7 linked regions of the Homo sapiens genome follow. The protein of the gene in region 4 interacts with the protein of the main gene of each other region in a pairwise test. Each region holds a gene or a part of one and is shown on either strand. Other genes may lie near its edges.

Region 1 (3,500 bases), on a different chromosome or scaffold from region 4:
GTAGGGTTGAGCTGAAGAGAGAAGGAAGGTTATGGCTAGAGGAGCGTGTGTCTGCTGGGCCCTTGTGTTAGTTTGGTCTAGTGCAGGGAAGGGGCTGGGAGATGATGTAGGAGAGAAGCATTGTGGGCAGGAGGAGAGGATGTGTTTGGGTATGGCTGCTCCCAAGCTGTGGTTAGGACAGCCATAACAGGAGCCTTGCCTCTGCTTTCCACTGGAGAAGACAAGGAGCCTGGGCTGCAGAGGGAACCTGACACCCTATGTGGAGGCCCACAGCCAGCTGGGACAGATGTCCCTGAACCCTTGTGTCTTCTACAGGAAGCTGCGGATCTGTCCTCCCTGAAAAGCATGTTGGACCAGCTGGGCGTCCCCCTCTATGCAGTGGTAAAGGAGCACATCAGGACTGAAGTGAAGGATTTCCAGCCTTATTTCAAAGGAGAAATCTTCCTGGATGAAAAGGTGTGTGTGATGGGAGGCTTTTAGACACAGACTGCTGGGGATTGTGCTCAGCTGTGTGATAGTCAGGTGGCCCAGGTATGTCTGGCCTGGAGCTGGAGGCTGGCCTTCCCTTCAGCTGTCCTGAACTTGCAAGGCCTTTTTCAGCCCCCTGAGCAGAGCATGATCAGACATTTTAAAGCTGTCCTCTCAGTTACAGACAGTCCCTGACCATCTGGTGGTTTGACTTAACGATCTTTCAGCTTTGTGATGGTGCAGAAGTGATAAGCATTTAGTTTCTACATTTCTTCAAGAACCCATACAGCCATTCTGTTTTTCACATTCAATATTCAATAGACTACATAAGTTATTCAACACTTTATTTTAAAATAGGATTGTGTTACATGATTTTATTCAACTGTAGGTTAATAAGAGTGTTCTGAGCATGTTTAAGGTAGTGTAGGCTAAGCTATGAGGTTAGGTGTATTAAATGCATTTCAATATAAGATATTTCAACTTATGATGGGTTTGTAGGGACATAATCCCATTGTAAGTTGAGGAGCATCTGTATTACTTAAGTCTTTCCTGCCATGTGAACTGGGAGAGTAGGAAATAGCTGAAACTCCAACAGGTTCCTCCACTGTTGGGGGCCTAGTACAAAGCCCCACACCCTGTCCCTTAATTCATTTATTTCTTTCTCTTCTGCTCCCACCTCTGCAGAAGGTAGCACTGTTACCATCCTGTCAGGTGGAAGACTAGTGAGAAGGTAGAGTCAGAATTGAAAGCTACGGATGTCACCCTAGGTCAGGCCTACCTTGAGGTCTGAAACTGGACCCAGCAGGGTTCTGTTTTCTTGGCAGTTGAGAGTGGACCTGGATTGGCTGGGCATGGTGGCTCATGCCTGTAATCTCAGCACTTTGGGAGGCCGAGGTGGGCAGATCATTTGTGGTCAGGAGTTCAAGACCAGCTTGGCCAACGTGGTGAAACCTGTCTCTACTAAAAATTCAAAAATTAGCCAGGCATGGTGGCAGGCACTTGTAATCCTAGCTACTTGGGAGGCTGAGGCCAGAGAATTGCTTGAACCTAGGAGGTGGAGATTGTAGTCAGCTGAGATCGCGCCGTTGTACTCTAGCCTGACTGACAGAGCAAGACTCCATCTCAAAAAAAAAAAAAAAAAAAGAGTGGACCTGAATGTGGGCAGTGTGTGTGTGTTGGGTGGGAGAGAAGACTGGAACCAGCAGCCTTTTGAGTCTTTGCCTGAGAACCAATGCCCCGTCAGGAGCGTTTCCTCCTTGAGGAAGGCAGGCATGTAGAGTACTCATATGGGATCTGTCTTTCTCACTCCATAGAAAAAGTTCTATGGTCCACAAAGGCGGAAGATGATGTTTATGGGATTTATCCGTCTGGGAGTGTGGTACAACTTCTTCCGAGCCTGGAACGGAGGCTTCTCTGGAAACCTGGAAGGAGAAGGCTTCATCCTTGGGGGAGTTTTCGTGGTGGGATCAGGAAAGCAGGTGAGTTCTTGGTGTTTACTTGTGGTCTGTAGGTGTCTGTGTCTGTGAGTGTGAGACTCCAACCAGAAGCTGGAGTGGGGGTTGACTTTCCCTGTTTTGGGTCTCCTAGCCTTCCTTCTAGCAAGCCAGGGAACATGAAGAAGGGAAGGGAAGGCAGTTGTTGTTTATCACACATCATTCTCTGCTAGTACCTCATACTTGAATCTACTCACTCATCACAGTGACATCATGAGACAGTTTGATCATTTTGCAGACAAGGAACTTAGAACTGAAAAGGGATGAGCAGCTGCACAAGGAGCACAGCTCATCGGTGGCTCTGCTAGGCCTGAACTCAGGTTTGCTGACTTTAAGTTCAAGGAGCACAGCTCATGGGTGGCACTGCTGGGGCCTGAACCCAGGTTTGCTGACTTTAAGTTTTGTTTTCTGTGCTTGAACAAAAGCGTAGTTTTATTCTGTTTTTGAATTTACTCTCTTGCAGTGTTCCAGGCCACCATGGATGGATGATAGAAAAAAAAATAAGAGGAGAAAATAAGGAATAGAACCAGGCGTAATTAGGGGAAGTGGCAAGGAGGTTGCGGGGAGACGATGCTTTTTTCTGTGGGGATCTTGGTGTCAGGGCTGGCCTAGGAAAGGTATCTGACTCCTCTGCAAACAGGCTATTATTATAGGTCCTGGCTGTGAGGCTCCACAAGCAGCATGGAGCCCTAGGGGAAGGTGTGGAAAGGAGGAATGGGGTCTCTATAGGCCCAAGAGCCAGGTAGGCAGTTGTTTGTGTCAGAGTCTAGGCAGCCTTGAGCCATGGTGGTTCCCCTGCCCTGGAGGGCAGTGTCAGCAGAGGCCAGGAGGATGTGTAGCAGGGATGGAGCAAAGTGGATGAGGGGGCTGGGCGCGGTGGCTCACACCTGTAACGCCAGCACTTTGGGAGGCCAAGGCGGGCGGATCACTTGAGGCCAGGAGTTCCAGACCAGACCAGACTGGCCAACATGGCAAAATCCCATCTCTACTAAAGAAAAGCTTAAAAAATTAGCCGGGTGTAGTGGTGCGCACCCATAGTCCCAGCTACTTGGGAGGCTGAGGCAGGAGATTTGCTTGAACCCAGGAGGCAGAGGCTGCAGTGAGCTGAGATTGTGCCACTGAACTCCAGCCTAGGGGACAGGGCAAGATTCCATCTCAAAAAAGCAAGTGGATGAGGGAAGGGTATGGGAGAAGGACCTGGAAACTGGTGGCCTGACTTCTAGGCCTGTCTCTGTCAATTTTGGACATGACATTAACGTGTAGAAAGTGTTTTCTTTCTGTAGAAAGATGGGGTTTATCTGCATTGTTGGATCTCACTATTAATGTTGATAATTACATACTCTTCCCAATTTGGGAGGAATAAAAGGGAATAGAAATCCTTCAAGTTTAAGCTTTATTTCTTTTTTTTCAGATGGAATCTCACTGTGTTGCCCAGGCTGGAGTGCAGTGGTGCGATCTCGGCTCACTGCAAGCTCCACCTCCTGGGTTCACGCCATTCTCCTGCCTCAGCCTCCTGAGTAGCTGAGACTACAGGCACCC
Region 2 (3,500 bases), on a different chromosome or scaffold from region 4:
TTATCAAAGTATACCCTCTCCCACTCTTGGGATATTCATTGTAAGTTTTGGGGGTTTTTTTCTCCTTTTTAATTATTTATTTTGTTCTCTGCATTGCTTCCTTGAGTCTCTTTTCTATTTGTTTGGTTTGTGCATGAGGATTTCCTCAGATGCAGGCGATCCTTAACTGTCTGTTCATATTTAAGAGTAAAGCATTAAAGTTTATTATTCGGAATCTCTGAAACCTGGGCAGAGCTTTTTGGCTTCTTTAAATATAATTATGCTGTGAACTGACCTCTTTGTTAGAGTAGCCTTGGATGTCAGAATTTGTATTTGTTTGCTTTGTTTTCTATATATCTATTTGTTTGTGCTGCTATAGTAAAATACCACAGACTAGGTAATCTTAAAAGAACAGAAATTTATTTCTCACAGTTCTGGAGGTTGTAAAGTCCAAGAACAAGAAGGTGGCAGTTTCTGTTGTCTGGAGAGGGCTGCTGTCTGCTTCCAAGATGGTGCCTTGATGCTGAATTCTTCTGAGGGAATTCACATGGCAGAAGGTGGAAAGGCAAAAGGGACAGACTCCCTCCATCATGCCCTTTTAGAGGGACGCCTAATCCCATCCACGAGGGCAGAGCCTGCATGACTCAGTCACCTCCCAAAGGCCATTCCTTCCAATACTGTTGCATTGGGGATTAAGTGTTCAACATACGGATTTTGGGAGACACATGCAGAAGACCATAGCAACTTTGAAATCTAATTTTGGGGGTGGGAGGGCAGACACCATTCAGTTTCTTCCAGAAAAGGCTCCTCTGCTTTCCTGCCTAGGAAATTATAGAATGGGATGTTAGCTTTCTACAAATGAGGTGGGAGAAAGGGAGAGGTTTCAGAGATTAACATAGAGCCTTTCCCTTGTACCTCATTCCAGCCTTCTTTGCCTGGTATCCTCTATTCTGGAGCTTCTGTGGTTCAATATTTCCAAAGAATAAAATTTCTTTTCTCTCACGAGAGGAGGTGGGTGGTAGAGGTGGTTAGTCACTTGGCTGTGTGGGATAATGGAGGAGGCCCAAGTGGTTCTGCTCCTTCTCTTTTTCCCACCTTGCGTGGTAACTGCCAGAGAGCTGATCCTCACAGGAATTCTGCGGCCTAATACAATTAGCTTCATCTTCACCTTTATTCACTCTGGGCATTTGGGTGATAACTTCTCCATCTCCTTACTGTCTTGGAAAAATTTATGAAAATATGCACACATTAGTGCTCCTTTTCTCTTTTTTCTTAGGAGTTAATATTTATTTTATTCCTCAACTGTCTCTTAGAGGGGTTGAGAAGAGATAAACTAATGTGTTCAATCTGCCATTTTTAACTGTTTCTAGCATGCATTTTTTCTAATGAAAGTATTATAAATGTTGATTAGATGCTTAATAGTACTATTAGTCCTGTTCCTCATGTATATTGGTATGGGTTAAATAGGTTTCTGTGGCCAACCTGAAAACCTAACTGTATCTATGATTTTCCCTTAGAACTAGAGGTATAATCAAGCCTTTCCGAATTGATTATCTGGAGGAATTTTAACAGACTAGAGCAAAAACATTTTCTCTCTCTCCATTTTCCAAATCACATAGAAAATTACTACAAATACTATATCATCATTGTTGAAATAAAAAGCTCTAATAATTGTAACAGAAACTTGAATTTTAGTAGAAAGGTTTATTTGTAAAGTTAAAGCTATACAAATTAAAATCAGAAGTAAAATTGAATTCTTCAGCCAATATCTCAAATCTCTTTTTTTTTTTTTAGCAACTGTTTTGAAAGCAATTTTCTAATTAAATTTAAACCCAGTGATAGTGGTAGCTTTGGGAAAATAGTAATAGCCACGGGAATCATTTGTTTAACTGTATTTTTTGTTGTTGTTGCTTTCTTTTTCTTACCATGGACACAACAGAATCTTCTGAAATATTGGACTGAATAAACTAGACCTAGCTAGATAGACCAATAAAACAATCTTCCAAGTCATGAATGAGTAAAAATAGTTATGCAAAGCACTTGTGTGCGAAAATGCAGCTCAGAATATGTATAGTACACAAAGTGTTTGAAAGTAAATGCTGCACCAACTTGGTGTTGGAATTGCAGAGACCACTGCAGTGGGGAGCTCCAATTTCCAGCCTTTGGCAAGGGCATATTCTTCCCGAGGATCACCCTGTTGTGCTGGGGCAGCCTTCCATGAGCACTTGCACCCCGGTGACCCTGATTGCCCAGTCTCAAGGGATCTGAGAAAATTAGGAAAACCAGGAACGGTTGTTGTAATCTTTTGTATGGCTGGAACGAGGTAAGGGCAATGAAATGCAGTTATTCCATTATTTTCCTTCCTTTTTATTTTTCTTTCTCTTTTATTTCTTCTTCTTTATTATTATTAACCACTCCCCCTCACTCCCCCTACTCCTTGCTTTTGACAGAATATTGACTAGGAACCAGAAGCCCATTTCTGCTTAGCCTTAAGGGCAGCTGTTTACACAGCAGCAGTGTTACATAGGTTTACTGTGTCATATGTCTGTGTAACACTGGATTTGGATCTTGTATTTAGCTGCCAGAAGTGACTGTGATGAAGTAGGAGAGATAAACTGATAGATTGGCTGCCAGAAAGATGTTGGGAATCAATCAGATAAACAGGGTAGAGAAATAGCTTGCTGTTTTCTAGTGATAATAAAACCAGCGGCTTCTGGTCCCTGCATTCTTAAACATAATTGCTGTAGTAATAATGTCCAAAATAAGCAAATGAAAAAACATCATGGGAGGTTTTCTAATTGCAATTGAGATATCCTTTTCCCTTTTGCAATAAAGATTCATCTTTTGGAAGTGAATATTTTTTATAAATTTGTTTTACTTCTTCCAGTGCCTACTTACATAAACATATGAAATTAGAAAGAGATCTGCTTTCAGAGGAATTTATTTCTCTTTCTTCATTTGAACCACTGAAGCCCACAGGCTTCAGCTATTTGATTTGATGAAATATCTCTATTGCCACCATGCCTCACCTACAAAATCATTGCTAATTTTTATGAAGAAACAAGTTTTAAGGCCAAACCTGGATTATTGACAGATGATTAGCAGAACTAGTTTATCTTAGCGTCTTCTCTTAAATTTCTCTCAGAAGATTTTTGGAATTTTAATCTCTGTTTCTCTTTCTCTGCATATAGCACTTATAGTTCTATTATCGTAATTCAGGGTTTTTCTCCCTTAGTGTTTAACTTTTAAAACCATTGCTTCTCTTCGCCCAAGGACTTTAAGATTCAGTGCAGATTCTTAAGTCTGTATGAAAGGTACAGATGTAGATTTCAACTGGGTGCAGAGGAGTCAGGCTTAAAATGACAGTAGGAGAGTCATTTAGAATAACTCCCATGGAGTTAATTGTATTGGATGAGAGACTAATCCTCTGTGGTATATTTGCAGTATGCAAATGACTTTCTTTAGATTCCCTCTTAAAATTTGTGTGGCTATGAATGTGTTGGTATCATGTGTGGCTAAAG
Region 3 (3,500 bases), on a different chromosome or scaffold from region 4:
TCAAGTGATCCACCTGCCTTGGCCTCCCAAAGTGCTGGGATTGTAGATGTGAGCCACTGCGTCCAGCCTACTTGCTTAATTTTTAAACATTCTAAAGATTGTTTGTTTGTTTTTTGAGATAGGGTCCTGCTCTGTCTCCCAGACTGGAATGCAGTGGTGTGATCATGGCTCACTGCAGCCTCTACCTCCTGAGCTCAGGCCATCCTCCCAATTAGCTGAGATCACAAGCAAGCACCACCAGCTAGTTTTGTAGGGACGGGGTTTCGCCATGTTGCCAAGGCTGGTCTGGAACTCCTGGGCTCAAGTGATCCACCCACCTTGGCCTCCCAAAGTGCTGGGATTATAGGCATGAGCCACAGTGCCCGGCCTATTCTGGAATTTTTAGTTAAATCAGGAACACATGAAAAAGAAGCATAAATATTGAAATTAGCATTATTCATGAAGAATGAGAACTAATAAGGAACTTAAATTAGGCACAGGCAAAATGTAAATTAAATATACAAAAGTCAATAGTTCTGGCCGGGCACGATGGCTCATGCCTGTAATCCCAGCACTTTGGGAGGCCAAGGCAGGCGGATCGCCTGAGGTCAGGGGTTCGAGACCAGCCTGGCCAACCAACATGGTGAAACCCCATCTCTACTAAAAATACAAAAATTAGCCGGGCATGGTGGCGTGCACCTGTAATCCCAGCTACTCAGGAGGCTGAGGTGGGAGAACCCGGGAGGCAGAGGTTGCAGTGAGCCGAGATCACGCTACTGCACTCCAGCTTGGGCGACAGAGCGAGACTCCATCTTAAAAAAAAAAAAAATTTAATAGTCCTAAAGCCTAATCCATTGATTATGTAATGAGGAGAAAAGATGATTACAGTAATGCAAAATAGAAATTGTATACAAAATATATAATAAGAAATAAGTTGGTCATACTAAGAAATATGACCAACTTCTATGATAAATAATGTAAGACAGGGACATAAAAGTTGCATGTAATGGAAAAAACATATCTTATTGCTAGATAGAAGAACAAGAACAGTACCAGCACTTAGGGAGGCAAAGCCAGGATGATCACTTGAGCCCACGAGTTTGAGACCAGCCTGAGCAACGTAGTGAAACTTCATCTCTACCAAAAAATTTTAAAAATAAGCAGAGTATGATGGTGGACACCTGTGGTCCTAGCTACTCAAGAGGCTGAGACAGGAGGATCACTTGAGCCCAGGAGGCCGAGGCTGCAGTGAGCCCTAACTGCACTACCTCACTCCAGCCTGGGCGACAGAACCAAGACCCTGTCCCCCCCCAAAAAAAAAAGATGTTGGGAAGACTTTACTCCTCATAGTTAACAAATTTATTGCAAATTAATTAAAAATCAATGCAAATAGAATAGTAGGAGAACTTAGTAAAACAGTTTATCTTTAAAATAAACATGGAAGTGTGGCTGGACATATTTGAAAAATAAAAGTAATGGGTTTACTGACATGATAATAAAATGTAGCAATGCAGGAAAAAAGAAAGAGATGAATAGAAAGCAATAGGCAGGCAGAAACAGATCCGAGTATAAATAAGAATTTATCCTGGGTGCAGTGGTTCATGCCTGAAACCCTAACATTTTGCGAGTTCAAGATGGAAGCCAGGGATTTGAGACTAGCCTGGGCAACATACCAGGACCCTGTCTCTAAAAAAATTAAAAATTAGTTGGGCGTGATGTGTGCGCCTATCAGCTTGAGAGGCTGAAGCTAGAGGATTGCTTGAGCCCAGGAGGTTAAGGTGGCAGCAAGCTGTGATTGCGGCCCTGCACACTAGCCTAGGCAACAGAGCAAGAATTCATCTTAAAAGAATTTAGTAGATGATAAAGGTATTATTTTAAATTAGTGGAGAGAAGGCTGTCTGTTCCAATTAATAATGTTGCCTGATCATTTGGAGAAAGTCACTCTAGATTCTTTCCCTCATACTGAGCACCAAAAAATATATAAATTTTAAATAGATTAAAATGTTAAAAATTTTGAAGTATGTGTTTATTAAAAGAAAGAGGTGTATTTACATAAAGTTATGACAAATGACAAGTCCTAAGAGTTTGCATTTAAGTTTTATCAACTAAAATTGCTGAATTTCACAAAATTAAAATTCCTAGAATTTTAAGTGTGATAAGATTGTGAAGATAGCTCAAGGGAGTGTGTCTATAATATGCAGAAATCACTTCTGGATTTATTCCTAATAATGTATCCAGTATCACAGTATCACCTGTATTTCCCTGTTTATAACAAAACTGGCATCATGATGATTAGTAGGCCTTAATAGTGAAAAGGCTTTTTAAGTACACAACAAATGTTTCTGTACTTGCTCCGATTGCCCCATTGCTTGTACTTCTGTAGTACTTGTGAGCCATAGGATCTTTTCTCAAAAGCCTTGATAAAGAAGTTTTATAAACTTATAAGATGATTTAATGTAGTACCATAAAATTAACTGTAGCAGTAGGCTTTTTCAGGAAGACATGTGAAATAAAAAAAATTAGCAAGGTGTGGTAGCGCACATCTATAGTCCTAGCTACTCAAGAGGCTGAGGCAGGAAGATCATTGGGTCCCAGGAGTTAGAAGTTGCAGCGAGCTGTGATTGCGCCACTGCACTCCAGCCAGAGCAACAGAACAAGACCCTATCCTGTCCCTAAAAAACAAAAAACAAAATGTGTTTTATAAGTGATTATAAAATGTTTTTTTCATAGGCCAAAACTTACATAAACCATGATTTCCCATTATAATCCAGTGGAAAAATTGTAATGCTTCTATTAGTGGTAACTTAATTTTGAAATGTTAAGTAGATTGTGCCTGTGTCGGTTTCTGGGTTTTGATAAATGATCATTTATTTGGCTAACTTTGCCATTAATGGCTGAAATGGTATTGCACATTTGTAAGTGCATACTTTAGATAATCATAAATTGGGGAAATATTACTAATAAATTATCCCTGAATCATCTAGGTACATAATAATGCATTGTCAGCACTCACCAGTTGTTTGACACCTGCAAATATGCACAGATGGACAGTAACATTTGCAGCATATTTGGGGGATTTTTTTACGTGAAATGAGCATTTTTTTTAAGCAAAACATTATATTTTGGAATAATTATGAGATGTGAGTGCCTAAGCAGAGATGTACAGCAAACATTATCAGGACAGAAAGCATGATGGGAGCACCCGATGTTACATTCTTCAGTTCATGCTGTGACCAGGCGACCTCATAAAAGGAAAAATATAATGTATAAGTACAAACCCCATTTTTTGTTTTGGCTCTTTTATATTTGTATTTTTTGAGACAGAGTCTAGTTTTGTCACCCAGGCTGGATGCAGTGGACCGATCTCGGCTCACTACAACCTCTGCCTCCCAGGCTCAAGCAATCCACCCACTTCAGCCCCCTGAGTAGCTGGGGTTACAGGCATGTGCCACCACACCTGGCTAATTTTTGTATTTTTTTTGTAGAGACAGGCTTTCGCCATGTTGTTCAGGCTGGTCTCG
Region 4 (3,469 bases):
GATGAGGGAACTAGCACAGGGCATTGTGCCTAAAGACATGCCCACGGCTGCACAGACAGAAAAACCTTCAATCAGATAAAGGACAAGACCTGGGATAGAAATGCCTTTGTCCTTTGTATAGTCAGGGGGCTCTCTCCTTTTGTGGGCATAGGCACAGTGGGCTCCAGTGGGTTCCTGGGCCAGGGTCCCGGGCCAAGCTGAGTCACGCTGCGGGCCAAGACAGCCCACAGACTAAGCACATTCCTTCCCCTTTCCAGTCCATAAAAACCCTGGGCCCCAGCCTCACGGGAGCATCCTGTTTGGGCCCCCCTCTCTGCTGGCAGAGAGCTTTCTTCTTTTGCTTATTAAACTTTCGCTCTAACCTCACCTTTGTATCTGTGCTCCTTAATCTTCTTGGAGGTAGGACAAAGAACTCCTGGCATTATCTCAGACAATGAGAGACTGTTATATCTTGGTGCACTGCTGAGACTACAACATTAACACCAATGTTATGGTGTTAGGAGGTGGAGCTGTGGGAGGTGATGAGGTCATGGGGTGGAATCCATGAATGGGATTAGTGCTCTTCCTATCAATGAGACCCAGGAGAGGCCCCCTGCCCTTCCACGACAGCAAGAAAGTGCCACCTATGAGGCTGAGAGTGGGTCCTCACCAGACACCTCGACTGCTAATTCCTAGATCTTAGACTTCCTGGTCTCCAGAACTGTGAGAATAAATTTCCACTGTTTATAAGCTACCCAGTTTACAGTATTTTGTTATAGCAGCTTGAATGGATGAAGACTGATTATCTAAAAATATTAGAATTAACAGGGTTGAGAGTGGTTAGAGAATTGCTTCTTCTGTCCTTCTAAGTAAACTGTATATGGCCATCTTCCCTACTCACATCCCTGTGGGATCTCCTTTATTCTATTCCAGTTCTCTAAATGAATGGATGAGTTAGAGGGATGTGTGAGGCTGGGAGAGTATACCTCAATCTCAGTGTATGTTCTTAGGCCAGTTCATTAACCTCCCTAGCCCTCAATTTTCCATTTGATAACATAGGGATAATACCATCTACTCGCAGATTGTAAAAATGGAGCAAATATGTGTGAAAATGCCCAGGACCGAGGTCATTCCTTCCTTCTGCCAACTCTGGCTCCTCCCCCGCCTCCCTCCTGTGATTCCTTTGTGTTGGCTGCCCTGATCCTGTGAGGAAACCTGACCCTCCTCTCTCAGCTACTACCCACCACTGAGTTCTCTAAAGTGTTTCATTGTTAACTTCCTTATTTTTAGCATTCTTATTTCTGTTTTTTAACATAGAGGAAACTTTAAGTAAAATCTAGATTTCCCCTGAAGATACTGCTTGCCTTAAATCTTTCTCAACTGGAGGCTGGTTATCTCCCAAGCTCCTCCAGGTCATATGGCTACAACGTGTGACTGATTTTTCTCTTGGCTCCTATTTCTTTCCAGACCACAACCTACAACTTTCATTCAATAATTGCCCTTCCTCCAAGCTCAAGTCATCTAGAGTCATCTAGAATACTGCCCTTTCCACACTCCCTTCACTTGCTGACCTCCAGCACATCACCCCCTCCCTCCAAGCATGGCTCACATCTCTGTTCTGTCCATTATCCTCCATAACCTGGCTTCACATCATTCTGGCCTTGCTTCTTTCAAAGCCTGCTACTTCTATTAAAAAAAAACAGTATTTGAGGAGAAACAGTAAAACAATTTTTATTTGACATGAGCAAATGGTAAAAAGTAGTCATACTTGAAAAAACCCTACTTATCTTTATTTTGAAATGGATAGTATATGTTTCACATGGTTTAAAATCAAAATGTTAAAAATGATAACACAATTGGAAGCAACTTTCCCTAGTCTCTACCCTCATCTTTTTCTTGCTTTTCCCAATAGTTAATCAATAGTATTAGTTTCTTGAGTATCTTTCCAGGGGTTTCTTTATGTAAATATAAACAAATATGACTAGATAGTCTCATTTTCCCTCTTACAAAAGGCAGCATACTGCATACTCTGTTCTGCAATTTGCTTTTTTTTTTTGAAACAGCTCTGTCGCCCAGGCTGGAGTGCAGTGGCGCAATCTTGGCTCACTGCAACCTCCGCCTCTCAGGCTCAAGTGATTCTCTGGCCTCAGCCTCGTGAGTAGCTCGGATTACAGGTACCCGCCACCATGCCTGGCTAATTTTTGTACATTTAGTAGAGATGGGGTTTCACCATGTTGGCCAGGCTGGTCTCGTACTCCTGACCTCAAGTGATCCACCTGCTTCGGTCTCCCATAGTGCTGGGATTACAGGTGTCAGTCACACCACTTGGCCTAATTTACTTTTTTCATCTGATGCTATCTCCTGAAGATCTTTCCAAATCAGCACACAGAAACACCATCCTCACTCTTTTTTTTTTTTAAACTGATGCGTAATATTAGCCACTACCCTACTGGACACTAGCATTGTTTATACATTTTTATTATCATAGCAAAGCTGTAGTTAATAACCTTGTTTATTTGCCCTTTTTTACTGTCCTCACATTTGTAGCTATATCCCTGAAGAGGGAGTGCTGAAGGGTTGATACGCTGGTAATTTTGAGAGGCACTATTAAGCTGTTTTCCGGAGAGGTCTATCACTTGCACTCTGATAGGCAGCAGATGGCAGTGTGTGTTTTCTAGCTTTGACAACACGGTATATTGTGTTGTATGTACTTGTGCATGTATTTTCACTAATTTCAGATATATCTTATGTAAAATTCTCTCCTATGGTTGCACGGACCTCTCCTTCCACTTCTCTCACTTCCGTGAAGCCTGGTATTCCACCTCACCGTTGCCACTAGCCTCCTGTCCTCTTCCAGTATTTTCAGCTTCTTTTTGGTTTCATACTTCTTTCCCCTCAGCCTGCTTTCCATAGACAATAATTTCTCCTGTATTCTGAGTGGTTTCTTTAATTCCCTTGACTTTCTGATGCTCACTACACTACTGATTCCCAGCCATTCTAGATTAAATCACTTGGTTCATTTTATGGCAACGGTTCCAGGCTTCGTTAAAAAAAAAAAAAAATCACAGAATCCTTTTAAATGGTTCTGTAATATTGAACTTCATATGACTTTTTAGTGCTGAACAGCCATCTTTTCACCAATCCTTAGTAGACTTCATTCTCACTCCCCATGAGATCTGCTCCGTCACAGCTAACTTCTCACTCATGATGATGAGCCTGCTTCCTAATTCACCCAGAAAGTCATAAGCTTACAAGGATCAAGGAATTCCTCCTGCTTCTTTAGGCTAGTTTGAATTGAGTTTCTGTCACTTGAAACAGAGCTTTCATATAATGTTTACATAAAACTATGGTATATAGATCATAATCGTGATTTTAAAATATTAAAAGCATACCTGCAGGACAGTGTGGTAGTTCTTCCTTAGGAATGCTAGTCATTCTTTGAAAATCATCATGACAAGCATTACAAAAATGTGTTGTTCCAAAACAGAAA
Region 5 (3,500 bases), on a different chromosome or scaffold from region 4:
TTTCACCATGTTGGCCAGGCTGGTCTTGAACTCCTGACCTCAGGTGATCCACCCCCTCGGCCTCTCAAAGTGCTGGGATTACAGGCGTGAGCCACTGTGCCCGGCCATAGCTTCTTAAAAGGATACGTTAAGGACCTTAAAAGGATATGGCCTCTTAAAAGGATATGTTTACACATTCTTGCAGCAAATAAGAAGCCATGTGAGGTTTTGAGCAAGAGAAAGATGGTTATTAGGAAAGCTAATCTGGCTCTGGTAGGAAGGATATACAGAGGAGACACCGAATCCAGGGCATCAGTGAGGAAGCTGTTGCTGTCGTCCAGGTTTAGAGCAGTGGCGGCGGGACTGGAATAGATGTGCCCAAGAGACATTTAGTGGAAACGAACCAAGATTTTCCAACCCCATGTCAAAAAGTGGGAAATAGAGAAGTCAAAAATGACTCTCAGGTAGTTTGTATGACCATTGTCAGAGAAGAGAATGATAGAATACTTGTCAGCAATTTGAAATGTCTTCTGCCAGTTGCCACATGTTACCCTGCAATAAGAAAAGCCACTGCCCTGAGAATGGATACTACCCAGTGGCCTCCTCATCTGCACACCACGAAGCTTCTCACTGGTGTTGTAAGTGGAAACCAGAGTAGCTGCCTATCTGCTTGATTATATTTTTTCTTAAAAATGTATAACTATCAGAACACAGAACAAACAGCTCCTAACCGCTTTAGTGTAGTGATCACACAATTTAGAATAAGACTTAGAAGACTTTCTTTTATTTTTTTCCAGAGACAGTGCCTCATTCTGTTGCCCAGGCTGCAGTGCAGTGACATGATCATAGCTCACTGTAACCTCGAAGTCCTGAACTCAAGCAATCCTCCCACCTCAGCCTCCCAAGTGGCTAAAACTATAGGCATGCACCACCACACCAGTTCATTTTTTAAATTTTTTGTAGAGTTGGGGCTGTATTTCCCAGGCTGTTTTGAACTCCTGGCCTCAAGTGGTCCTCCCCACTGGGCCTACCAAAGTGCTAGGATTATAGGTGTGAGCCACCACACCCAGCCTCATTCATCTTTTATGGTTTGCTGTCTCTGTTCAATCAAAACCCAGCCTCCTCCCATCTCTGTGCTGACAGACCTGGAAGGAGAGGAGTATGGGGTATACAGCAGAGTAGAAAATGTCTCCAGGTGATTCTAGAGCAATCCATTGTCTCCTCCCAGCCCAAACACATGTGTACTGAGCACAGTGCACATCACTTATTAACTTACTCTGCACCTCCCTAGTAACAAGTCCATTGGTGAGACTTACACAGAGCCAACCCAGGTGACTTGGCTTTGTGCCAGGATGCCAAAATTTAAAGGGTGCAAGAAAGTATTAATACCGATTTTAAAAGATTATGTGACTGTAAATTTTGTTAGATTAACACGTTGACAAACCCAGCATTCCTTCCACTGTCTAGAAACAACTGAGCTTAGCACCTAGTTAACAAGAATAATTAGTTAAAACGGGAAGCTAGCAGATGGTGTACATTGTTAGTAACACCCCTCTCTGTGCCAAATCCAGAGCACAAAGTTGACCAAGGGCCCACATACTGCAACTTGCCCAAGGCATCAAAATTGCCAGTTCCGGGCAAATGCAAAGTCTAGTTTCAGGGTGGCTTTGTACTGAAAACCCTTGTTGGCAGATTCTGCTTGGCCATTCATTACTCTAGCACACGCCTCACTATCTACTTATAACTTATTAAGGAGGTGAGATGTTGCCTTTCTTCGCTTTCTCAATTTAAATTTCAGTTTCTGCCTTGAATCTTTCATGCCTCCAGGTCAAAAGAGAGAGACAGAGACAGGGAAAATGACATCATAACCAAATATGGAATTGCTTTAAATTCAGGCTGGTATCTTCTCCCATCATGGCTCTCCTGGGCAGCTGGTTTACTAATGACCCCAACTCACTTTCAGAGGTCTCTTATGAATTAGCTCTGTGCTACAAAGTGGGAGACTGACCTCACTTCTTCCACTACTGACTAGCTTTGTGCCCTGAAAAAATCACTTCACCCCTCCCAAACACAGAATAAGCAGGCCTCCTGTTCTTAGCTAGCCCCAGTGTGCCACTACTGAAGTATAAGATCTTGAGAAAATTCTCTGAACCTGTTTCATCATCTCCACCTTAAGGACACTGGAATAGATGATCTCAAAGGCCCCTCCAGGGTAACTTTCTTCAGCTCTATTTAAGCCAGTTTTTCCATTCAGGTAAGTGTGGACAGATTGACTTTGAGATAATGGTAACTTATTCAGGGAGAACTGGACAGTAAGCACTTGGAGAAATGTGGGTGGAACTCAGTGTGAAAGGAAGAGGAGGGGTCTGGAAATAGATTTTGGGGTGAGACTTGAAATCATGAGAATGAAGGAGCTTTCCAAAGGGAAAGTGTAAAGAAAAGAGCGTCAGAGACAGCCTTGGAAGAATAGGAGGTGGGAAGAAAAGACTGCAAAAGAAATAGGGCCAACTTCCTGGTGGCTTGTGCCTATAACACTTTAGGATACCAAGGCAGGTGGATGGCTTGAGCCCAGGAGTTCCAGACCAGCCTGGGCAACATGGCAAGACCCTGTCTCTACAAAAAATACAAAAATTGCCCGGGTGTGGTGGCACGCACTTCTACTCTCAACTACTTGGGGGGCTGAGCCAAGAGGATGGCTTGAACCCAGTAGGTCAAGGCTGCAGTGAGCTGAGAACATGCCACTGTGCTCCAGTCTGGATGACAGAGCAAGACTCCATCTAAAAAAGAAAGAAGCCAACCTTAAATGGTTAGCGGCAGATCTTAGGGTAGTTTTCAAAAAAGATGTTTTAAGAAATAGAAGTTATTTTGACAATAGTTCTTAAGAATGAAGCTTTTGTTGTCATTGTTGTTGTTGTTTTTAATATAAAGATAAGGTCTCGCTGCATGGCCCAGGCTTCTCTCAAATTCCTCAGCTCAAGTGAGCCTCCCACCTTGGCCTCCCAAAGTGCTATGATTACAGGCATGAGCCACAGCTCCTTGCCCAGAAGGAAGTTTTTATCAACATGGGTAAATGCACCTCCCTTACTTACTGCAGCCCTGGTCCAGACCTTACCCCTCTCTCTAGGCTGTGAAGCTTCATGGAGGTATCGATATCCTAGTCTCCAATGCTGCTGTCAACCCTTTCTTTGGAAGCCTAATGGATGTCACCGAGGAGGTGTGGGACAAGGTGAGAGGGGATTAAAGAAGCGCGGAAGGGGGCCTCGGGACACATTCAGCACAAACTCCATCTGCTTTTAGAATGCATTTCTCAAGGGCAGTGTAAATGTGAGGACTCTTTGCCACGTGCCACACACCTGGAGCACACCTTGCAAAGGGCAGGTGGGGGTGGCTCTTTCTCTGCCCTTCTCATTCGTTTCTGCTGCTCCTAGTTCTCTCTGCTTCTATCTGCTCTTCATTAGCCACTGCTCCCCTCCCCAGGCTTCTTCCCTGGCATGCTCTTCTGCCTTGTTGATTTCCAACAG
Region 6 (2,787 bases), on a different chromosome or scaffold from region 4:
TTCAGGCAGGAATCTGTGAGAGGTGAGAGGCCGGCGTCCCAAAGCTTGCCAGGGAGACGTGGAGGAGGTCCCTAGGCAACATGTTTCCTTCAGGGCTGCAGGGGTGGGAGGGTAGAAGAAAGTCGTGAGGGGCAGTTGGGCTAATTAAAAGGAGATTAAGGAATCCCAGGTGAGGCCGAAGGTGGGGGAAAGAGGGGATGGGGTTGAGTCATCACCCCACTATTACCATGACAACTGACAAATAAATCCTCCCAGATTGGGGGTTGCCGCCCCGTCGTGCCCAGGCAGGACCATTGTGGGACTGAAGAGCCCCAAGAACCCATCAGTCATCTCCCCTATCCTACCTCCACGCCCCTACTCCAACTTGAATGAGCAATGAGGGGCTGGGAACAGCTAAGCCTGCCTCTGTCTTCATTTTGACCTCTCCTCTCCCTCACATGAAATGAGGGAGTAGAGCTGGGCGTTCTGGGTCCCTGGGCTCCCCTCAGCACCTCCCTGACCCAGCTAAGAACAGCTGTGTTCACAGCCAAGTAAAACAAGGACCTTGAGAAATTATGTCAGGCCCATCCCAGGCAGAATTGGCTTCTGAACTCACCCGCTTCCCCTGAATATCTGGGGTTGGCACCTAACTTCTGCATCCTCCCTGTCCCCATTAGGCCCCCTGAGAAAGTCATCAAGTTTCCTCTCAGCTAGTCTTGCTTCTCCTTTCCCCTGTGTTTGGGACCCTGGGCGGACCTTTCCCAGCAGGAAAGGCTGCAGGGTTTTTCAGCGGGCGAGGATGCATCTAGAGCCCCCTGGTGTGCCGCTCCCCTAGCTGTGCTGCTTTCCCCGGCCTCCCAGAAAGTGTGTGGGGGAAGACAGCGTGGGCATTCAGCAAGGGGTGCTCTCCCCTTTGCCTCCCACCCCATCCTGCTCTTCCATGCTGGCCTAGAACTTTGGGGCCACATTGTATCTCTAGGATTCTTTCCCTTTCAGCCAGGAGTTTTTGTCAGACCTGGGAAAGTGGGACCCAGACTGCCTTGGGCCCAGGTTTCCAGGGTGGGTGTCAGCCTGTCCCCTGACCCCCATCTGGCTCTTCCCCCACAGCTGCTGGAGTACTTAGGGAAGGGCAAAAGCATCGTGGATGTGGGGCTGGCCCAGGCCCGGCACCCACTCAGCACCCGCAGCCACTACTTCGAGGTGGAGATCGTGGACCCTGGAGAGAAATGCTACATCGCCCTGGGGCTGGCACGGAAGGTGGGCACAAAGGCTGAGCTTTTTTGCTCATGGAGCTGCTCAGGTCTGGGGCTGTTGGGGCAGCACCAGGAAGCTCTTAGGAGAAACCAGGGGAGCCCAGGCTTTGGAGGGAGGGTGCTAAGCTGAGATGGAACACAGTTGTATGTGTCTGCTGTGTAAGAGTACACACCCCATGTGACCAAGGACCTGAGACAGGTCATGACTGCACCACACACTAAGGCCTGGGGGGAGGGGGTGGGACATGCCATGGCTCTGGCCTTAAAAGCTTAACTAACACTTTCCTCACCCTCCCTGGTTCCCCTGAAGCCCCAGTGCCTGCAGGGTATGAGTGTGCAGGGTTGGCACTCTCTGGGCTGTGGTCTGTCCCAGAGGTTCAGATGCTACTCGCCACTCTCTCCTGTCTTGTTTATGCATGGGACCATAGATTTTCTTTTCTCTTCTTGGTGCAGGACTATCCCAAGAACAGGCACCCTGGCTGGAGCAGAGGGTCTGTGGCTTATCATGCAGGTGAATAGCGGGCTGCCTGGGAAAGGTGGGATGGTGGGAGATGTGGAGGCATAGGGACATCCACTTTCCCCTCTCCTGGCCCCTCACAAATGGCCTTGCTGTTTGCCCTGCTGCTGGCTGACCTCCCCTTCCCAAATCGCTAGTGCTTCCTCCTCATCTGTGTTTTCCTCCCAGCTCTGGAAACCAGGGGAGCAGGACAGGAGAGGGAGATCTGGGCCCAGATGGGACATTCCAGGCCTCTGAGCTGGTCCCCCCGTGCCCTTCCTGCAGACCCTCATTTCCTCATTTTCTTTTTTCTTTTGCTGCTTGGTTTCCTTGGCTTTCTTTAGAAGAAAACTGAGCCTAGAGTTCCTCGACCCACCTCCCCCTGCCTGCCCTCCCTGGGTGTTCATTCCTTCCCTAGGGCCCCCTCCTCTGACTCATTTCCTAAGGGTTCTCCCTTACCCTTACCTTGAGCAGATGGATACTACGTCTCTTTATTTTATTTGGTGCCCCCTTCCCATATATCTCGCTCCAATTTTTTTTTTTTTTTTTTTTTGAGATGGAGTCTCACTCTGTCACCTAGACTGGAGTGCAGTGGCATGATCTTGGCTCACTGCAACCTCTGCCTCCCAGGCTCAAGTGATCCTCCCACCTCAGCCTCCTGAGTAGCTGGGACTACAGACGGGCGCCACCACGCCCAGCTAATTTTTGTATTTTTAGTAGAGATGTTTCGCCATGCTGGCCATGCTGGTCTCAAACTCCTGACTTCAGGTGATCCACCCTCCTTGGCCTCCCAAAGTCCTGGGATTCCAGGCGTGAGCCACCGCGCCCGGCCTCTCTCTCCATCTTTGTTTCCGCCCTGACCCTTCCCTTCCTCTGAGGGGTGGGAAGTGTTCAGCTTCATGAGCCACTCTGGGGGTGTGGTGTCAGCCCTCCTTCCTCAAGTGTTTGTCCTTTCCCCTCCCTCCAACAGACGATGGGAAGATCTTCCATGGCAGTGGTGTGGGGGACCCCTTTGGGCCACGCTGTTACAAAGGGGACATCATGGGCTGTGGAATCATG
Region 7 (3,500 bases), on a different chromosome or scaffold from region 4:
ACCCCCACACTCCTTTCCCTTCCCCTCTCCAGCCCTTTTCTCCATCCCTGTCCAATTCATCTTTGCTAAATCAGGTGTCACCTTCCCTCAGCCTCGCCTATCAAGAAAGCCTCACTTCAATGTCATCTTTGCCACTTCCCTCTTCTTTGTCCAGAGAGCCAGCCCACAGCCAATGCTTATTGATCTGTTCTAAGCATCCCAGCTGTCTCCTCTTTTCTATTCCTACTGTCAATCTACAACCCATAACACGCTCTTACAATTTCATGGATCATTTAATGCATTCTTCAAGTTTTGCTCTGAAATTTGTCTTTTAAAATTATTCTGTTGGATGGACAATGATTTGACACTCCTGGCAATATTAAAAATATACATTTCATTATATATTTCATATAACATATATATTTATTTATTTCCCCCCCATAGAAGGCAAAATGGCTTTCAGCAATGGCAGTTAAGTCTACACAGCCTCTCAACTGCTTTGACAGAGACAACCTCCTCTGAAATATTAAAGTTCTGGTATATTTTTGAAACAGTCATATTACATGTCAACGTAACTATAATGTAAACATCATATCAAAAAACAGATGTGACCCTTTTCTGCTATGGTATGAATCATCTGTTTATGAAGTGGCTGAACAAGCAGAAACAGCCCTTCATTTGGAAATTCAAATCTGAAAGTCATAGTGCTGAATTAAGTCTTCACAAACAACACATAAAGATCCAGACATTAGGACTGTATACCTTTTCAATCTGTTTTTGTTTATTGAGTTCTTTCTGTTGCTTCTCTTTTACTCTCTCTATTTCTTTTTGTTTTTCTGATGCCCTACGATCCTAAAGAACAGATGAATAAAACTAATGAATTAAATATGAAATAACTTTAAATTTTAGACATTTCAGTTAATATCACATGGTAACCTTTCAATATTTTTTTGCATTTATACATAAGAAAGCACATCAACAGTTTATATTCAATGGTAAACAATTATCCAAATTCTAAATGCTATGTTGGTAATAGTATCACTGTTAACCTTGCTTAGCAAAATCATTTTATTTACTTGCTAATATGAAAGAGCTAATATACTATTTTAGTTAACATTCTTGGAAAATCAAGCATCTTGGATTCCTTTTTTTTTTTTGAGATACAGTCTCGCTCTGTTGCCCAGGCTGGAGTGCAGTGGTGTGATCTCGGCTCATTGCAACCTCCGCCTCCCGGATTCAAGTCATTCTCGTGCCTCAGACCTCCTCAGTAGCTGGGATTACAGGTGCACGACACCACACCCAACTAATTTTTGTATTTTTAGTAGAAATGGGGTTTCACCATGTTGGCCAGGTTAGTCTCGAACTCCTGACCTCAAGTCATCTGCCCGCCTCGGCCTCCCAATGTGCTGCGATTACAGGTGTGAACCACTGTGCCCAGCCACATCTTGGATTCTTACCAGTTCAGCATGCAAAGCTATCTGTTTTGCCAGTCCAACAGAATCACATATCTAAAAAGAGAAAAAGTATGAAAAATTCAGGCAGTTCTCACAACAAAGCAAAAATGTCAAGTATCCAAATAACTGATGGAACTAGTTTTATAACTAATCCTAATACATTGCTTCAAGCAAAAGCATATTTAAGAATGCTCAAGCCCCCAAACCAAGGCTTTGTATGTTTTCCTTGAAGTCTACAGGATTCCACTGCTGACTCTCACCTTCATATATACCCCACTTCTTGTTATGTCAAATTCATTACTGTCACAGTAAGGCCTACGAGGAAGAAGCATGCAGCTGCTAATGCTATTCTCAGCTGAAGACATCTGAAAATGGCTGGTTTTGGTTCCCAACATAATGTTTGGTTCCCAACATAAATGAGAGGCTAAAAGATTGCACCAGCTATCAGTGGCAGGGAAAACATGGGTCTGTAGAGTCAGAAGGCCCAAACCATCAGCTTGGCTCTATTCAGAGATGCTTTGCTCAAGCAGCTCAGTAAGCCTAGGCAAAATTTGGGAGTTTTTTCCAAAAATCTTAGAATTATATAAGAATTTTATTTACACAAAAAACTACAAAACACTGATGAAAGAGACTGAAGACACAAAAGAACATCCCATGCTCATGGATCAGAATAATATAGTTAAAATAACCATATTGCCCAAAGCAATCTATAGGTTCAATGCAAATAGCCAAAGCAATCTTAAACAAAAAGAACAAAGCTGGAGGCATCACATTACCTAACTTCAAAATATATTACAAGGCTATAGTAAGCAAAACAGCAGGGGATTGTTATAAAAATAAGACACATGGCCAATGGAACAGAATAGAGAACCCAGGAACGAAGCCACTTGTTTACAGCCAACTGATCTTTAACAAAAGTGACAAAGAACTTTCACTGGGGAAGGGATATCCTCTTCAATAAATGGTTCTGGCAAGATTGGAGAGCCACATGTAGAAGAATGAAACCAGACCCCTCCCTCTCACCATACACAAAAATCAACTCAAAATACATTAAAGACTTAAACATAAGACCCAAAACTATAAAAATACTACAAGAAATTATAAGGATCAGAGCAGAAATAAATGAATCTGACATGAAGAAAACAATACAAAAGATCAACATAACAAAAAGTTGGTTTCTTTGAAAAGATAAAACTGACATTTAGCCAGACTAAGAAAAAGAAGACTCAAATAAAATTGGAGATTAAAAAGGTGACATTACAATTGATACTGCATAAATTCAAAGGATCATTCGTGGCTACTATGAGCAACTACATGCTAGTAAATTGGAAAATCAAGAAGAAATGGATAAATTCCTAGACAAATACAACCTACCAAGATTGAACCACGAAGAAATCCAAAACCTGAACAGTCCAATAACAAGTAACAAGATCCAAACCATAATAAAAAGTCTCCTGGTAAAGAAAAGCCCAGTACCTGATGGCTTTCCTGCTGAATTCTACCAAACATTTAAAGAAGAACTAATACCAATCTTACCCAAAATGTTCCAAAAAATAGAGGAGAAGGGAATACTTCCAAACTCATTCTACGAGGCCAGTATTACCTGATACCAAAACCAGACAAAGACATATCAAAAAAAGAAAACTACAGGCCAATATATCTCATGAATATTGATGCAAAAATCCTCAACAAAATACTAGCAAACCAAATTCAACAACACATTAAAAAGATCATTTATCATGACCAAGTGGGATTTATCCCAGGAATGCAAAGATAGTTCAACATATGCAAATCAATCAATATGCTACATCACATCAACAGAATAAAGGACAAAAACTATTTAATCATTTCAATTACTGCTGAAAATGCATTTGATAAAGTTCAACATCCCTTCATGATTAAAAACCCTCAAAAAAACTTGGTATAGAAGGAATATAGCTCAACATAATAAAAGCCATATATGACAGACTCACAGCTAGTATCATACTGAATGCAGAAAAACAAAAAGCCTTTCCACCTTTTAGATGGAAGATGAGTAATCAGGTAAGAGAGGAAAAAAGGCATCCA

The links.
Region 1: the proteins of MYCBP2 (region 4) and PRXL2A interact in a two-hybrid assay, tested with the Homo sapiens proteins (one large-scale study listed by BioGRID and IntAct).
Region 2: the proteins of MYCBP2 (region 4) and AATF interact in a two-hybrid assay, tested with the Homo sapiens proteins (one large-scale study listed by BioGRID and IntAct).
Region 3: the proteins of MYCBP2 (region 4) and LSM14A interact in a two-hybrid assay, tested with the Homo sapiens proteins (one large-scale study listed by BioGRID and IntAct).
Region 5: the proteins of MYCBP2 (region 4) and DHRS4L2 interact in a two-hybrid assay, tested with the Homo sapiens proteins (one large-scale study listed by BioGRID and IntAct).
Region 6: the proteins of MYCBP2 (region 4) and SPRYD3 interact in a two-hybrid assay, tested with the Homo sapiens proteins (one large-scale study listed by BioGRID and IntAct).
Region 7: the proteins of MYCBP2 (region 4) and APPL1 interact in a two-hybrid assay, tested with the Homo sapiens proteins (one large-scale study listed by BioGRID and IntAct).

What each region holds. Positions count from the first base shown.
Region 1 is NC_000010.11:80,425,551-80,429,050, forward strand, and holds part of PRXL2A (peroxiredoxin-like 2A isoform 1 precursor), read left to right. Parts: intron 1-315; coding exon 316-456; intron 457-1,781; coding exon 1,782-1,946; intron 1,947-3,500. UniProt on the Homo sapiens protein: Involved in redox regulation of the cell. Acts as an antioxidant. Inhibits TNFSF11-induced NFKB1 and JUN activation and osteoclast differentiation. May affect bone resorption and help to maintain bone mass.
Region 2 is NC_000017.11:37,014,954-37,018,453, forward strand, and holds part of AATF (protein AATF), read left to right. Parts: intron 1-3,500. UniProt on the Homo sapiens protein: Part of the small subunit (SSU) processome, first precursor of the small eukaryotic ribosomal subunit.
Region 3 is NC_000019.10:34,210,504-34,214,003, forward strand, and holds part of LSM14A (protein LSM14 homolog A), read left to right. Parts: intron 1-3,500. UniProt on the Homo sapiens protein: Essential for formation of P-bodies, cytoplasmic structures that provide storage sites for translationally inactive mRNAs and protect them from degradation. Acts as a repressor of mRNA translation. May play a role in mitotic spindle assembly.
Region 4 is NC_000013.11:77,047,626-77,051,094, forward strand, and holds part of MYCBP2 (E3 ubiquitin-protein ligase MYCBP2), read right to left. Parts: coding exon 3,372-3,469; intron 1-3,371. UniProt on the Homo sapiens protein: Atypical E3 ubiquitin-protein ligase which specifically mediates ubiquitination of threonine and serine residues on target proteins, instead of ubiquitinating lysine residues.
Region 5 is NC_000014.9:23,991,929-23,995,428, forward strand, and holds part of DHRS4L2 (dehydrogenase/reductase SDR family member 4-like 2 isoform 1 precursor), read left to right. Parts: intron 1-3,103; coding exon 3,104-3,205; intron 3,206-3,500.
Region 6 is NC_000012.12:53,066,604-53,069,390, reverse strand, and holds part of SPRYD3 (SPRY domain-containing protein 3), read left to right. Parts: intron 1-1,086; coding exon 1,087-1,236; intron 1,237-1,685; coding exon 1,686-1,743; intron 1,744-2,698; coding exon 2,699-2,787.
Region 7 is NC_000003.12:57,265,729-57,269,228, reverse strand, and holds part of APPL1 (DCC-interacting protein 13-alpha), read right to left. Parts: intron 1,488-3,500; coding exon 1,437-1,487; intron 888-1,436; exon of another isoform or gene 832-887; coding exon 742-831; exon of another isoform or gene 1-741. UniProt on the Homo sapiens protein: Multifunctional adapter protein that binds to various membrane receptors, nuclear factors and signaling proteins to regulate many processes, such as cell proliferation, immune response, endosomal trafficking and cell metabolism.